Linked DNA regions of Homo sapiens: region 1 is reported to be linked to region 2. Evidence: microRNA targets listed by miRTarBase, many of them from high-throughput screens and not tested one by one. Region 2 holds a microRNA gene; the other region holds the end of a gene's coding sequence.

The links. The annotated mature microRNA hsa-miR-448 reads UUGCAUAUGUAGGAUGUCCCAU and lies in region 2 at 4,270-4,291, opposite strand. An mRNA with a match to its seed (bases 2 to 7 or 8) in the 3' UTR can be bound and repressed. Matches are read on the target gene's strand: a 7mer-m8 pairs with bases 2 to 8, a 7mer-A1 pairs with bases 2 to 7 and ends in A, and an 8mer does both.
Region 1: the mRNA of FXR1 is a reported target of hsa-miR-448. Seed matches in the 3' UTR shown: 8mer at 952-959 and 7mer-A1 at 6,747-6,753.

Annotation. Positions count from the first base shown.
Region 1 is chr3:180,975,710-180,983,373 of GRCh38, forward strand. FXR1 (FMR1 autosomal homolog 1) reads left to right here. Exons shown (of 17, transcript NM_005087.4): 17 at 413-7,044. The coding sequence ends at 583. Among named protein-coding and RNA genes, the nearest start is that of DNAJC19, 10 kb to the right of the region's middle.
Region 2 is chrX:114,819,300-114,827,814 of GRCh38, reverse strand. It overlaps MIR448 (microRNA 448), which reads right to left and starts at 4,361; the gene lies at 4,251-4,361. The region is part of intron 4 of HTR2C (5-hydroxytryptamine receptor 2C); the gene reads right to left.

The DNA.
Region 1 (7,664 bases), not on the chromosome of region 2:
TATAGACCTTTTAAATTTTAGTTCTTTTAAATGCTTTACAGTATTTGATATGTAAATGTGATTTCTCAAAATAAGGTGAGTAAAGTAGGTGATTATTTGTTTAATATTAACTGTTTATGTCATTTTCATGGTGAGCTTTCCAGTGTTTTAAAATTAGGTACAGTTTTCATTAGTTTAGATGTTTTCTGTGGTTTGGGCACTGCTAGGTACTAGAGATACAAAGTTGAAAGACCCATAGAGTGGAATACTTTGTTATTTGTTTTGAATTTTAAAGATGTTTTAATACTTTGATCCATTGTGGTATATAAAACTGAAATTTTTAATTAGCTAATTAGTGTTTATGTAGCTGTTTTCCTCCTCAGCTATAGATTTCATTTATAAAGAAGTTGAAAAAGTTGTCTCCCTTTGGCAGGCAAAAGATGTGATTGAAGAGCATGGTCCTTCAGAAAAGGCAATAAACGGCCCAACTAGTGCTTCTGGCGATGACATTTCTAAGCTACAGCGTACTCCAGGAGAAGAAAAGATTAATACCTTAAAAGAAGAAAACACTCAAGAAGCAGCAGTCCTGAATGGTGTTTCATAAACTGAAGAAGTTCCTAGTTTACAGTTCTTTTACATTACATTTACAATAGTGCTTGTACAAGCTTGCCAAAGATAGAATATGGATCGCCAGTCTTTACATCGCACTTTCAGTTCCTCCATTTGGAATTCAAAAAGGGGAGGGATCCTGAAGAAATCATATGTTAAACATACTTTGACACCTACTGTGTTATAAAATATATCATCAGATGTGCCTTGAGAATAGTATATGTAACATTAAAAAAAAGTTGCTGGCTATAGGAAATGTTATTTTGTTTTCAAAATATGGCAGAGATGGGGGGTGGTGGGTGGGGTGGGATCCCTAACGTAATATTCTTTATGAAAGCATTAGCTGCTTTTGTTACATTTTTAATATGCAACCACTTCTTCACCTGAGGAAAACTAGAATGAAATGCAGTCTAAAATATTTTGCACTGAATTGTAATTTCTTCATTAGTTTAGTCTGGAAACTGGTCTGTTTTAATGTGTTTTTTAAATGCTGTATGTAGAGGAAAATCTGCAGACCACTGGAATACATTTGTTAAACTCTCATCTGCAGGGACACTGGGCGATACTTGGCAGTGACTGTTCTACCTTGAGGCTTTGTTTGGTTTATTTATTAAAGTGTACAGTATTTAAAAATCAAACATAGCTTTAGTTAAAACACTAAGCTGAATTAGTCATGTCCATTCAGACATAACCTGAACTACTGAAAAGATCAATTTCCAGAAGGTTTATTCTGTATAAACTACATGTTAGTCTTCAGTAGAGTATCTTTTTTTTTTCCTTTTTTTTTTTTTTATTTCGGTTGTTTGATGTGCAATATGTTTTTGTATGCAGGTAGTAAATAAACTTTGATCTTCCATTTGCTGAATTTTTTTAACTTTCTACTTTTTACACCAATTGTTGCAAAATAGTTGGAGCTATTAATAGGCTTAGGATAGTATACTTTGCTTTTTAAAAAGCATTTATACTTGCTCATAAATAGCATTAAAATGTCAGTTGGCCATTTAATCATTTTGTAATGAATCATCTGAAATCTTTACACAAGTTTAGGCTGTTAGATGCATAGGTAATTAATAATACATGTGATAATTAGCAAAAAAACCTAACAAAATTCTAATCAAAGGCAACTTTGGAAGACAATGGGGGATAGAAGGGATGACAAGCAATTTTTAAATAATAGGCCAATGATTTGCTTTATTCATTCTCAACTTATTTTGAAGGCTCTCATATCAGTGACCAAAAATCAGTTATTAAACTTTATGTATATATTTTAGCCAGAGCTTAATTTTTATGAAGATAAAGACATGAAGTTTAACAATGGACAACAGTTAGTACAGCTAATTGTGAGGTCAAGTAATTGTTAGACATAGGGGAAGGCTTTGTTCCACAATATTATATGGACCACTGAACAAGAATGACAGCCCTTTGTTATCACTTGGCATATGAAAAGTGTTGTGTGCATAGTTTGTGTTAATTTTTTATGTGCATAAAAATGTGATTTTAATTTATATGCTCTGAAGGATAATTCAGGGTATAGTTAAAAATGTACAATGTGCCAGTTCAGTATATATAACCCTAGCCCTCAAATTATTCTGATTAAGGTTAAAATGTGCTGGTATTACGTGCTTTTTCCTGAGGCCTTCTGATTGGTTCTTGGTAACAGAATTTTAAAGTAAGGTGTGAGTAGTGCAACTCCTGTCCTTTATATATAAAGATATCAAGTAATTTCATGTCCTGATATTTAAAAAAATTACCCACAAATGTGTTTTTTTAAATCGATCAAAGCTAGCAACAGGTTAAATTGTCTCAGTTCTCTTACATAATTGGGTTAAAAATTATAAGGTATTAGAAGAATTTTAATTAATGCCAAATTGGTAAATATGGTGTAAAAAAAAAAAAAAAGACTTTTCATTTTCTCCCACATAGAATAGTCAGATATATTAAACATCCCTTTTCCATAAAGATGGTTTCAATGGGAATGGAAGAAACAAAATCTTAAAAGAGTGAGTATAGCTGAACCAATTCTTCATTCTAGCAATAACCACACTAAGTTCATTACTTTACAAATGACTAAACCCAATGTCTTGTCCTTTAAAAAATATAGGTAGTGCAGAATTGTGATAAATACGCATTTGTTTTTTTAGAGAGCCCCACTCCCCAAAGGGTAGCCATTAATTCAGGTAGCCTTTTAAATGTATTTGAGAGGGTTCCGTCTTTTTGGCTGCTATCCTAGTTAGGTGAGATGTTGCTATGGGAAGAACTTGCCACTATACACTAAACAGACACTTAAGCAAAAGATGTATTCTGGAGCCTGGCACAGTAGCTTATGTCTTTGGTTCTAGCTACTCAGGAGCCTGAGGTGGGAGCATCATTTGAACTCAGTTCTGGGCCACTGAGACCCTCTTTAAAGAGAAGGAAAAAAAGGTATTCTGGAAGATCTTGTGCAGTTGCAACAATGTTTCAGCATATATATGTGAATTCATATATGACACCTGAACGGAATCATGAAGTAACAGCTGAGATTATATGGTGGCAAAAATGACCTGCTTTTCCTGAAGCTTTGGGAGGCCTAGGATTCTTGCTTTAGGCATCACCTTTGTTAAGCCTTAAAGGGGGCTACAACTTGTGCAAAATGGTGTCTCTGGTAACACTTCAGAAATAATTGGCAAAAGTGTAATAGGAATACACAAATCTTTATTTTGAAATAATCTTGTATTTTAATGTGGAATTAGAAGCAGCACATCAAACTGGTGAGTTCACAGAAACTTACCTGAGATGATGCTGGGTTCCATTGCTGTTGTGCTAAGTCACGTATTTTTGTAGCTGCTGTTAGCTGTGTCTAGCGTTTTGTAACCTAAGGAGGGTCTTATAGAAGTTGGTATGTTAACTAAATCTTGGACTGGGAAACAGCACCATTTGTATCCTCTGCAAACAGATTTACGCTTTTGAGGCTCAAACCAACTAGTGTTCTCATGGGCTGTTGCCTAAGGACAGATAAACATGGAAAACAGGCTATGTCCAGGGACAGATGATTGGTGGTTAAGAATTACAGTAAAGGAAAATTACACCTGGATTTTCTTCTGTAAAGTTTCAAGGAACTTGGATTTGAACTGTGAATCTACTGTTTTGGCAAAAAATCTCAAAGAAAAGGATGTTTGTTACTGTCTCAGTCTTCCTGTCTTTGCTACACGATTTGGATCCCTTACGCTTTTTCGTTAAGAATATCTGTCTGCTATAGTGAATTTGCTAGCCCCTTATTTTTTTTTTTAATTTTAGTTCTTTATTAGAACGTGTACTTGAATGGACTGTAGTTGCTCATAACCCATGTTAATCTCTGATAGTATTTGGGTTTTATTTCAGGAGCTTTTGCAATAAAGCAGTAACTGCAATCTGCTAAAGTCAGACTGTTAGCAAGTGGTGTTAAAACTGATTTAAGTCCATTACACTGAACAGTAGGAAATTACCACTTTTGTAAGGCTCAAAAATGATCAACTATTAACAGTTTCTTATGGTTCAGTCTAATTACAAATTTTTAAAAAGTTTATCAGTGTATCATTTCAGATTCATCTGTATCTTCTGTAATATTATTTCCAGTACTGAGGTAAGGTACACAAAAATTCCCCTGGAAAAACTATATTCTAGTTTTGTAAGATGATTTCCCACAGTCCATTTGCTTATTTCTTCCTTTGATAATTCAAAAAGATGCTTTAGGTAATGGTACAGAATTAGAAGCTGCTATTTTAGCTCTATTAACTTTTTCTCTATGGTTTCAATTTTATCCAACCAGAGAGGGCTGGCCTAGTTGGTATCTTTAAGGCCCTTCCAGTAGTAATTTGAGTCTAGTCACATGTCAGACCCTGAGCAACACCTAACCAAATGCCCAAGTATTCTCATAAGGAGTATGCTGAATTTAAGTGGTGTTTGTTTTACATATGTATCCATCCCAGACATTTTCAACTATGCTGAATGCAATCTATAAGATATTCCAAACAAGGACAAAGTAATTTTTCACAAGTCTTACAGCCCCACTATTAAGTATGCTACTAATTAGCTTCTTGAATTTCTTTGTATTTCAGTGATTGGGATGTTCTTTTTTTTTGGGAAAGTTTTTTTACCCCTTTGTACCCTCTTAATTGGATTAACTGTAAAATGTACATATTAATTTTCTAGTTTTAGAGACCATTTTCATTAAAAATATTTTCCAATAGTTTTTCTAGATAAACAATTTATACTTAATTGTTGCTTGGTTGCTTACATTTCAACCTCTAGGCTTCCTTTTTCAGCTAACTTGGCTGTCTTCAGGTTGTAAAGAAAAATGTAAACATATATTTGAAATTTCATTAACTGAAACTGCTGTAAGGTGTTAGCAAATGTTAACCATAACAGATTATCCCATATCATTGGACTGTTCTATTATTGGGTCAGGAATAATAGGTGACACAGGATAGAAGCTCTTCCTATATATATCTTGTTGCTAAGGCAGTAGTTGGCTCTAAGCTGATAAACAGCACACTGTACAGCAGTCCAAAAACTAAAACCAGAGCTTAGGTCATTCAAGTTAACTGGTACTCAAGGTTACTCATTCCAGGATACTTTACATAACCAAAAACCTAGGAGAGCATTCTACATTGTAATTTTTTTTTTACTTTGTTTACATAAAATTTACAGGGTTTTGTTTTTTTAAGCTTAGTCTGTTCTTTGACATTGTTGATTCATGTTCTAAATTTTCATCAGATTTAACATGTTTGGAGGTTCTTGTGCACTCAATGTGAACCTACTACAAGCTTCTGAACTGCAAAACCTTTTTTTTAGGTCACTGTCAACAGAAAGATGCCTTATAGAATTTCTCATGATTGAAACAGAACTCTGCATTCTAACCTAAAACCCCTCTAACCCTTTAAATGAAGCATTATGCCTGCGTGAAATTTTATTTTTAGACATTTCTGATACTAGGTTTTCTTTACGGGGGGGCATACATATTCAGTATACTGAATTTATACAGCTTTCAGTGTGGCAATATATTAAGAAGCTAGTTCCCTAATTTTTCTCAGTTCTCATTGGTTTTCCATTTAAATGTTTCCGTAAGTACTCTCATCATTTGGAAAATACTTGATGGCAGGAGAACTTGCTTAAAACTAAAGGTGGAGAAAGAGTTAACTTCCAGGACAACCCATTATAGCTCACTTCTTACCAACAAAGCAGTTTTTATACAGCACCTTAGGACTCATTTCTAATGTCAACCCAGATGGCCAGTAAAGGCAAGGGAAGAGGCTAAGTGACTCACAAAAATCTCTGATATTGAGGTCTAATGTGAAGGCTATAGATAGGAATTCCCCACAAACTTCTAATGAGGACTAATATGAACAGCAAATTGGAGAAGACACCAAGGACCTAATTTTAGTTTCACTAGCCGTGGGACCTTAGAAAAAAGACCATTTGCTCTGGACTTTTGTTTCCCAAGCCATAAAATGTGGAAGAATCTTCACAATTTCAAGTTGGTCATGTATATTTCCCTTTTACAGAGAAAGCTGAAGCCTCGAGGCTCAGATTTACCTGGCTTCTGTTTACCTGGCTTCTGCAGAAGTTTAACTTGTAACCTACCTCTCATTCCCAAAGTGTGTTTAATCATGCCGCCTTCTTTAAAATATATCTGGAAGCACCAATGAGTAAAGACAAAGGCCCCAAGCTAGATCTGTAGAGATAAGTACTAGACTCACATCTCAGTACTATCAAGGAAAACATGCTTAGGTTATCAGAATTGTGAAGGCCATAGTACAAAAAGTTAAGAGAACGGAACTCAGGATCTGAGAAAGATCAGCCATTCTCAGCATGTTGCCTTGGCTGCTTAACCTTACTAAACTTCCATTTCCTCACATGTAAAATGTACATCATAATAACTAGTCTACTGAGATAAGGGAAGAATACTTAGCACAGTGCTAGTACACTGTAAGTACTCAAATGTTACAGATCCAAGTATTTTGTAAGAAAATACCAGCAAAAGATAAAAGTTTTTTTATGGATCGTATTTGTATCAATCACCTACATGATCTAGAGCCCTCACATGGATAACATTTAAATGTTCAGTTTGCCTAATAGCCTTCAATGAAACACGGATTCTTCTACTTAAAAAAGGTAAGCCTGGAGAAAATAAAACTGATTACTATGCAAGAAAAAAATGTGCTCTGCTGTGCTCCTTGGTATTTTTAAGTGGTTTCCATTGTCTTAACACCTGTCTTAAAACGGGTATGTTGTTTGCACTGAACCCTCAAAAGTATTTATACCTATTAAGTTAAATTTCCCTTTTTAGAGTTAATGCTTCATTGCCTGTCGGCATATTATCACTATCTGTCTTTGAAAAATTTTCTTTTAAGTCTCAACTATTTCTTCATAAAGCTCTTGTTCAGAGAAACATTTTTTGATTTGTCCAATGGACTGAAATAAAAGGTTAGTAAACCAAAATACAGTTGATCCTCATTATTAGTAGAATTCCTTATCTGTGAATTTGCCTACTCACTAAAATTTGTAACTCCAAAATCAACATCCTTTTCTGGTCATTTGTGAGTATTTGCAGAGTGACAAAAAATTTAAACCACTTTATGTGCACAAGGCAATGCTCTACCTTGTTTAAGCTCTCACACCATAAACAGATATCCTTTTTGTGGTCTATTTAGTGCCAAGTTTCATGTTTGTGCTTTTTGTTGGTGATTTTGCTGTTTTAAGATGGTTCCTAAGAGTAGTAGTGAAGCATGCTACCTAGTGTTCCCAAATGCAAAGAAGGCCGTGATGTCCCAAGCATGAGTTAGTTATAGTGCTGTTGGCTGTTAATTGAAAGTTAATGAAATACTAAAGAATGTTTTCAAGCAGAAACAGGTCGATCAAGGTTATATACTGACTGGCAGACAATATTGTGACCAAAGGGTCACAGAATCTGTATTTCTCTTAGGAACTTGTTCCTTATTTGCTAATTCAGTGTTCATAGCCACCTTAAAGAACAGAATTACCACAAACAAGAACCAGCTGTACTTTCATGTCTCCTTGTCCCTGGAAATAATTTATCCTGCATAAAAGCCTTAGAAGCT
Region 2 (8,515 bases):
GTAACCACAAATTTAAAAGCCTGAAAGAAAGGAGCTATCAATTCAAAATTCCATATCCAGTGGAAATATATTTCACAAATGAATGTGAAATAAAGAGATTCTCAGGTGAAGGGAAACTAGGAACTCATTGCTCTAAAACAAGTCTCTCTAAACTAGGAGACTTGGTCTAAAAATGTTAAAGGATGTTTTTCAGGCAGAAGGAAATTACACTAAAGGAAAACACTAAAGGAAATTACACTAAAGGAAAATTACACTAAAGGAAAACATCAGGAACAAAGGAAGAACAACAGAAACGGTAAATATCTTAGAAAATATAATAATTTTTCTTAAGTCTTTAAAATACATATGATTCTCAGAAGCAAAAATTTTGTAACATTGTCTGATAAGGTTCTCAATGCATGTAGATGTAATCCATATTACAACTAAGACCAAAAAAAGGAGGATAAAGGAGCATATATGGTTTTATCTTTCACTTGATGTGATAAAATATTAAGGGTAAGAAACTTGGAAAAAATATGTATATATAGGTTGAATATTTCTAATCTGAAAACCTGAAATCCCAAATTCTCCAAAATCTAAACTTTTTGAGCACTGAGATAATGCTTAAGGGAAATACTCATTGGAGCAGTTTGGATTTTGGAATTTTGGATTAGGGATGCTGAACTGTTAACTATAATGAAAATATTCCAAAATCTAATAAAATTCAAAATCCAAAGCATTGTGGTCCCAAGAATTTTGGATAAGGGATACTTATAATATACAGGTATATTTTAATTCAGAGCATTGTCACTTAACAAACAAAAAAACTGTACAAAGAAATATAGTAAAAAAGCCAATAGATCAATAAAATTGAAATACTCAAATAAAAAGAAAAAAACATAATAAATCAGAATTAGGAAACAAAAGAATGTTTCCCATTCCTATAGGAAATAAAAGAGTGGAAAAGACAAGGGATAAATAGAAAACAAAACACGGTAGACATAAGTCCAAACAAATCAATAATTGCATTAAATCTAAATGGTATAAACACACCAATTCAAGGAAAGAGATAGCGATTTTGGATTAAAATTGAGAATAAAAATAAACAAGACACAATTATATGCTGTCTATAAGAAACTCTACAAATTTAAATTTAATAATATAGATAGTTGTACAAGCTGAGCATCCTTTATCTGAAATGCCTGGGATTAGAAGAGTCTCAGATTTTGGACATTTTGATATTTTGGAATATTTGCATATACATAATAAGACATGTTGGGGATGGAACTCAAGTCTACACGTGAAATTCATTTATTTTTTGGCCTGAAGTTAATTTTATGCAATATTGCAAATAATTTTGTGCATGAAACAAAGTTTTGATGGCATTTTGACTGTGACCAGTCACATGAGGTCAGCTGAGAAATTTTCTACTTGTGGCACCATATAGATGTTCAAAAAGCTTTGTATTTTGGCTGGTCATGGTGGCTCATGCCTGTAATCTCAGCACTTTGGGAGGCTGAGGTGGGAGGATCACTTGAACCCAGGAGACCAGCCTGGGAAACATAGGGAGATCCTGTCTCTACAAATACTTTAAAAACTTAGCCCGGCATCGTGGCATACACCTGTGGTCCCAGCTACTCAGGAGGCTGAGGCAGGAGGATCACCTGAGCCTAGGAGTTTGAGGCTGCATGATTGTGCCATGGCCCTCCAGACTGGGCAACAAAGAAAAACCCTGTCTCAAAAAAAAAAAAAAAGTTTTTGATTTTGGATTATTTCAGATTTCAGATTTTGGGACTAGAGATGCTCAACCTGTATAATAAAAGTATGGATAAAAGATATACTGTGCAAACACTAATTAAACAAATGCTAGAATTTTTATATTAATAACAGATAAAGTAAATTGCAGATCATCGGATATCACCAGAGGTAACACAGACCATTTTATAATGATAAAGGTGTCAATTCATCGAGGGAATATAACAGTCCTAAACGTTTATAATACATTTAAAATATAATAACATTTAAAATATAATAACAGGGCTTCAAAATTCATGAAGCACAACAATGGTAGAGCAGAAAGAAGAAATCAAAAGTAGAATTACAATTACACTTCAAGATTTCAACACCCCTTCCTCAGTTAATTGACAGAAAAGCATACAGAAAATTATCACTGAGGTAAAAGAACTGAACAGCATTACCAACAAACTTGACCTAATTGACATTGATAAAACATACCACCTGACAACAGGAAAGTACACATTCTTTTCAAGAACTATGGAAAATTGACCAGGAAAGACCATATTCTGGCTCATAAAATATACCTGAAGAAATTAAAATGGTTGCAATCAAACAACGTGTGTTGTCTGAGTATAACAGAATTAACCTGAAAACAAATAAAACAGATATCTTGAAAATGTTCAAATATTTGCAAATTAAATAACACAATTCTAAATAATTCATGTTTCAAAAGGAAAAGGCAAATGAAGTTAAAAAATAATTTGAAGTAAATTAAAATGAAAACAAAACGTACTAAAATTTGTCTGATGGTGCTAAAGTAGTACTCAAAGGGAATTTTCTAACGTTAATGGTTTATTTTAGAAAAGAAAACTCAAATCCATGATCTAAGCTTCCAAAATTAAAGTGCTAGGCAAAAAAGGAAAAATGAAATCCAAGTACCAGAAGAAATAAATAAATATAAAAGCAGAAATCAATAAAATTTAGGCAATACTATAATATTGAGAATTCAATGAAATAAAATGCTGCACTTTATTGGGAATAGATCAATAAAACTGATAAACCTCTCAACAGATCGACTAAGAATTAAAGGTAGAAGCCACACATTATCAATTATCAGTGATCAAAGAGGTGATATCTCTATAGACTCTACAGAAATTACATGGGTATTATACATAACAGTATGCTCATACATTTGCATGGAACTTTGGGGTCCTTGTATATGAAACCATACGTTTTTTGAACTATTCACTAAGCCCCTAATTCCAATGGAGAGTCTGTGCTGCTGAGGAAAATAAAGAGATATAAATGCTCTAAATCCCAAACCCTAAATCAGCCTGTTTTTCAGCCTAAGATTGGCCCACTTACCATCCACTGTGAAGAATGCCAAAGCCAGGATGGTTGACTAGAAACTCATCCCAGATTCGAATGCATAGCAAATCAACATTTTTTAGAACCCCAAAGTCTTTGGAGATGGCCTGTTTAACTTGACCCTAATTTAAAGTCAGTGGAAAACTCGATAGCATCCCAGGATACAACTCAAGTTTGTGCTGTTGACATAATTGATTCTCTGCCAGTAGCATCTCCTACAGATTAGTCATTTTCATATAAAGATCCATAGTGAAATTTCAGCAGTCTAAAGTGAAAATGGAAAATTATGTATAACAGCCAATTATTTATAAAGCTAAATATATTCCATTTAAATGGCTTATTTCTATTCTGAGATTATATCCTTCCTGTACCAATCCAGAAGTAGAAGGGCCGCTAGGATTGGCTGGATTTTGCATTACTTTTAATCCTGCCCTATGTTTTTAAGAGCTGGGCCCTGCTCTCGATATTTCCTATCACCTTGCTTTTGACAGAATTCCCTGGATATGATTGGATACTGCAGCTGACAGAAATTATATCTCTGAAATATTTGTAGGGACATGCCGCTAACTTTCTCCCTTTGCAATCACACCTACTTCCTTGTAACTTGATTCTTGCCTCAAAGTGTAATAGACTGTTTCTGCTCAATTTAGAATTGTTAGTTCTTCTCTGGAATACTCCTCCCAAATATCCTTCTTCTGACTTTGAGACATATTTTTTAATTTACTATCTTACCTTGACCCTCAGACTTGAAATTCTAGGCTGCTTTTCAGGATATAATCTTTGTTTTTTTCTATAATTAAGAATTAGATTCTCTCTACCTCTAGGTATTTGGCTCTGGCTAGCCTAAATAAATATGCCCAACTATTGAATCTCCCTAATTCGGTGTAGCTCTGAGAGTAGGTGGCACAATTCTGGAGGCATTATCTGTGTGGCCAGTGTTGTTGCTAATATGGTTTAATGCAGATCTACTGGCCCTGAGCTTAAAGATCCACTCACATACCCACTGCCTCTTATGAGCCAAGGTCATAGCAGTCAGTACTCTACCCTCCTCTAAATACATTTGTCAGAATGCCTTTCTAGTGATGCAGCTCTAGCATCTGTGTTTCCATGACACGCAGATTTTATTGTTCTTCAGTGAAGCAGAGTGGTGTTTCTGGTGTCTGTCATGACGAAGTGGGCTGGGAGATGGGACATCCTACATATGCAACCAGCCAGCCCCCTCTTATATGAAATAGGGATTTCCTGGCAGCACTATGCAGGATGTTCAACCTCCCGGCCCATGCGAAGATGAACTGCTGCACCATGAAGTTCCAGTTTCTGCTGAAAGGCTTGACATTGATTGATGCTTCTCTGTGTAAATGCTGTCATGAAAGCCTCTTCTGGCCTGGTGGTCTTTTCCTGATGAACTGGTTGTGATTACAAGTAGCCTAAATGATCCAAAAGCTTGTCAACCAATAACTCATCTCTTACTTGAACTTAAACCCCTTATCTCAAAAATATCATTTCCCACCAATTAAATAAAAGGAGAAAAATCTCCTGACACTTATAGGTACCAAGATATTTTCTGGGTTACAAACACTGCCCAGCTCCACTTCCAATTTAGTCAACCTGTATTACCTGCTTCTAAATCATATAAACAGACTTCTTACATGACAGTAGAGGAATTCTATGGCTGGAAGACCCCAGATGGGCTGCACACACTTTTTACCAAAGCTATCCCAGATGTATCACAATTTAGTTGCCAAAAACACAGGCCTAGAAGCATCATGAGATCCTAGGCTCTGCGGCTCTGCAATGTGACCACCACATTACAAAATAAAGAAACTTAGCTAAGGACAAATTCAATCAGCCCTGTTCATTTAGCTTAGCAAATTCTGCATTATGTACTTGCTCATCTCAAGTCTCTCAGCACCAAGAACTTTCCTATCTGCAAAATTTTGTGAGCCTACAATTTCATCAGGACCTGACACCTGAGAGGTTCAATACAATCTACAATATCTTCAAACAAACAAACAAACAAACCCTAGATTTTCTCTTCTGAGATAGTCTCACAACCCATCTTTCCTGGAATTTTTTATGTAATTTCCAATTGAGCTACCTCCTTTCAAGCTGATCTCAAAACTTTACCTATGAGTGCATGGAAAAGACTTCCATTTCTCTGTTGATATTTTCTTCAGAGTTGAATGGAAGACAACTTTATTAAATGATTCTCTATTTCTTCTATTGTATGGATCTTGAGTGGTGGAAAAGGGATAAGGACAAAGAAGCAATCATGAATTCTTGCCTAAGCAAGAATATAATAATGAGGACTTCTGCTGATTTGTACTATGTGACTCTATCCTCTCAGTAGTGGGGAAAAAGAAATGAGTAGGTAAGAGAATAAGATATAATTGTGGCTTTAACTTTATGACTCTAGATTTTCTGGTTTGGATTTTGGCTTTACTTTATCACATTAAGCATACCTTTAATCTGGTATTTTATTTACAAGAGAACAAAAGTAAAATCTCTTTGACTATGTCATTAATGTAGAGTGATTTCTAAGTCAATAGAAAAAAATATAATTTTTTAAAAGTATATTTAATCTTGCCAGGCATGTTGGCTCACGCCTATAATCCCAGCACTTTAGGAGGCCAAAGTGGGTGGATCACCTGAGGTCAGGAGTTCGAGACCAGCCTGGCCAACATGGCGAAACCCCATCTCTACTAAAAATACAAAAATTATCTAGGGGTGATGTTGCGTGCCTGTAAGCCCAGCTACTTGGGAGGCTGAGGTAGGAGTAAGCCAAAATCGTGCCACTGCACTCCAGCCTCAGAGACAGAGTGAGACTCCATCTCAAAAAAAAAAAAAAAAAAGGATATTTAGTCTTTATAATTTGTTTAGTCTTGATGACACTAGCAGGATTAACATTTGCTAACTCTCCTAGGTGCTTCAGTGATAAACAACATGGCCATGCTATCATTCTAATGTTCACTAAAAACTAAAGTAAACTGTAAAATATATTTTTGAATACTGCTTTTTATAGTAATCTTCTTAATAACTAATGACATATTCAGAAATATTAAAATGCAGATTTCTTTAAAATTAAATATACATCTAAATAATGTATGGCTTATTCATGGCCAAGTAATTAATCATTAAAAGTTGTAGGCCAGTGTTTCTAACTTTCGCTGTGACTCACTAATTTACCATGGAATTTGATGGGATACATTATTTTCTACAATATATTTTAAGCCAAAGATATAGGATATAACCTATAAAATCAATTTCCTTTTTATCTTAAAATTATATATTAATATGTACCAAACAATTATTAAAATCTAAATTTACAGCTACAGATACTAGTATGAACAATATGCTGTCAGGTACTAGGCAGATTTCTTAAAGCATCATGTAGCAATCATGCTTTTAGACCGCTCAAAGTAGCATTAGTTCAAAGAGACACCATCTACAGCTTTTAGTTAGATCACCTTACTAACTGCTGTTTGTGATCTGATAGTCTGTACGTACTCATATCTGCTTTCTCTAGTTAGTGAATTTCTTGTTTACTGTTAGTAATAATCCAAGGCTTGAAAAAACATCTCCAAGTGTACAACCAAGTGTTTGACTATGGATGCCCCCAGGATCTCCCTTCTTTCATATCATAGGTTGAAAATGATTCTTATTCACTACTTTTCATATGCCCAAGTTGCAAAACATCCCCACGTTTTACTGTGCTATGCTTTTAATTGATTCTCTATTCAAACAGTTCACTCTGCAGAATAATGATAATAGATTAAAAGTGACTGTGAAATTTTAATTAACAGAAAAGAGAAACTCCTGAGGGTTCTAAGGGGAACCAGAAAGTGATATTGATATACAACTTCACAGCTGTGTTAGGCCGTTTTCATGCTACTGCTAAAGACATACCCGAGACTGGGAAGTAAAAGAGGTTGAATTGGACTTATAGTTCCACATGGCTGGGGAGGCCTCAGAATCATGACAGGAGGCAAAAGGCCCTTCTTACATGGCAGCAGCAAGAGAAAATGAGGAAGAAGCAAAAGCGGAAACCCCTAATAAACTCATGAGATCTCATGAGACTTATTCACTATCACAAGAAAGACTGGGCCCCATGATTCAATTACCTCCCCCTGGGTCCCTCCCATAACACGTGGGAATTCTGGGAGATACAATTCAAGTTGAGATTTGGGTGGGGACACAGCCAAACCATATCAATAGCTAAACACTGTATATATAAAGCTGTGTTCTCTATATATCAGTCATGTATATATGACTGATAAATTGTGGTTTAAAATTAAATTATTGCCATTTTTTAAGATTTCCCTAAAAGTTTTTCAAATTTACTTTTTTAAACAAAGGACAGTGTGTTTCAGGGGTCCAATATTAAAGTAATGTAAACTAAAAAAAACTCCTACCCCCTTCTTCATGATGTGACTATTATACATTCCATTCCTGTATCAAAACATTTCATGTACCCCATAATATTTATTTATAATATTTTATAATATTTATATATCTACTATGTACCCCAAAGAAAACAAAGTTAAAAATTTTAAAATTTAAAAATAAAATCCTATGCCCCCCACTGAAAGAACAGACCCTCTCTTGGCAAAGGGGAACGCAGAAAATCCTTAAAACTGAGTTCCCAGCCATGACAGAATGGAAGGTCAGACACACCTTGTTACACCCCCTCCATTTTGTGGTTTGGACAGAACAACTGACCAGCATTAATGTTAAAATAGAGATTAAAAGGCTGACAGAACAGACTCTATGTGACAATAAGATATTAGATTATAAACATTATCTAAGGACATGCCAGGCAAAGGTTAAATCACACATTCCTGCACTTAAAGAATAAACTATGTTCTAACTGTCACAAGGATTTTCTTTTTCTCTAGCAGCTAAACAAGCACTGGTCTCAAAACAAGTGATATTAAAACAATTTTCAGTTCCACCAGCTGCTGACTAGGCTGATCCTCAGCCCGTGTTCCACAAGCTATAACTACAGCTCTGACTGGACAAGAGACTGATTTCATTAGCTTTCTCCAGATAAGACCACTGACTATGAACTGGTTCTGGCTGGCTTACGGAGATTGTGCACTTGTGCACCTTCATGTCCTGAAAAGACCTTTTGATATAGAGGGCCTAATTGTAATACATGTAAAAGTTAAGTCTTCATCCCAAAGTAAACATGGGTCATATGTTATATGCATGTGTATTCAATATGCATGTGTCACAACCCCTTTCATGAATATTCACAGATCATCCTGTAATCTGCTGAATATGTATGTTTAGCTAACCTGTTCATCATAAAGCACCTACCCCCACACCTCCTCCTTCCAAATGCTGTAACCCTTTATAAGAAATAAATTTTTTTCTCTCCTTTTCTAAATGTATGCATTTATTTCAGTTGACAGTAACTACTATATTTAAT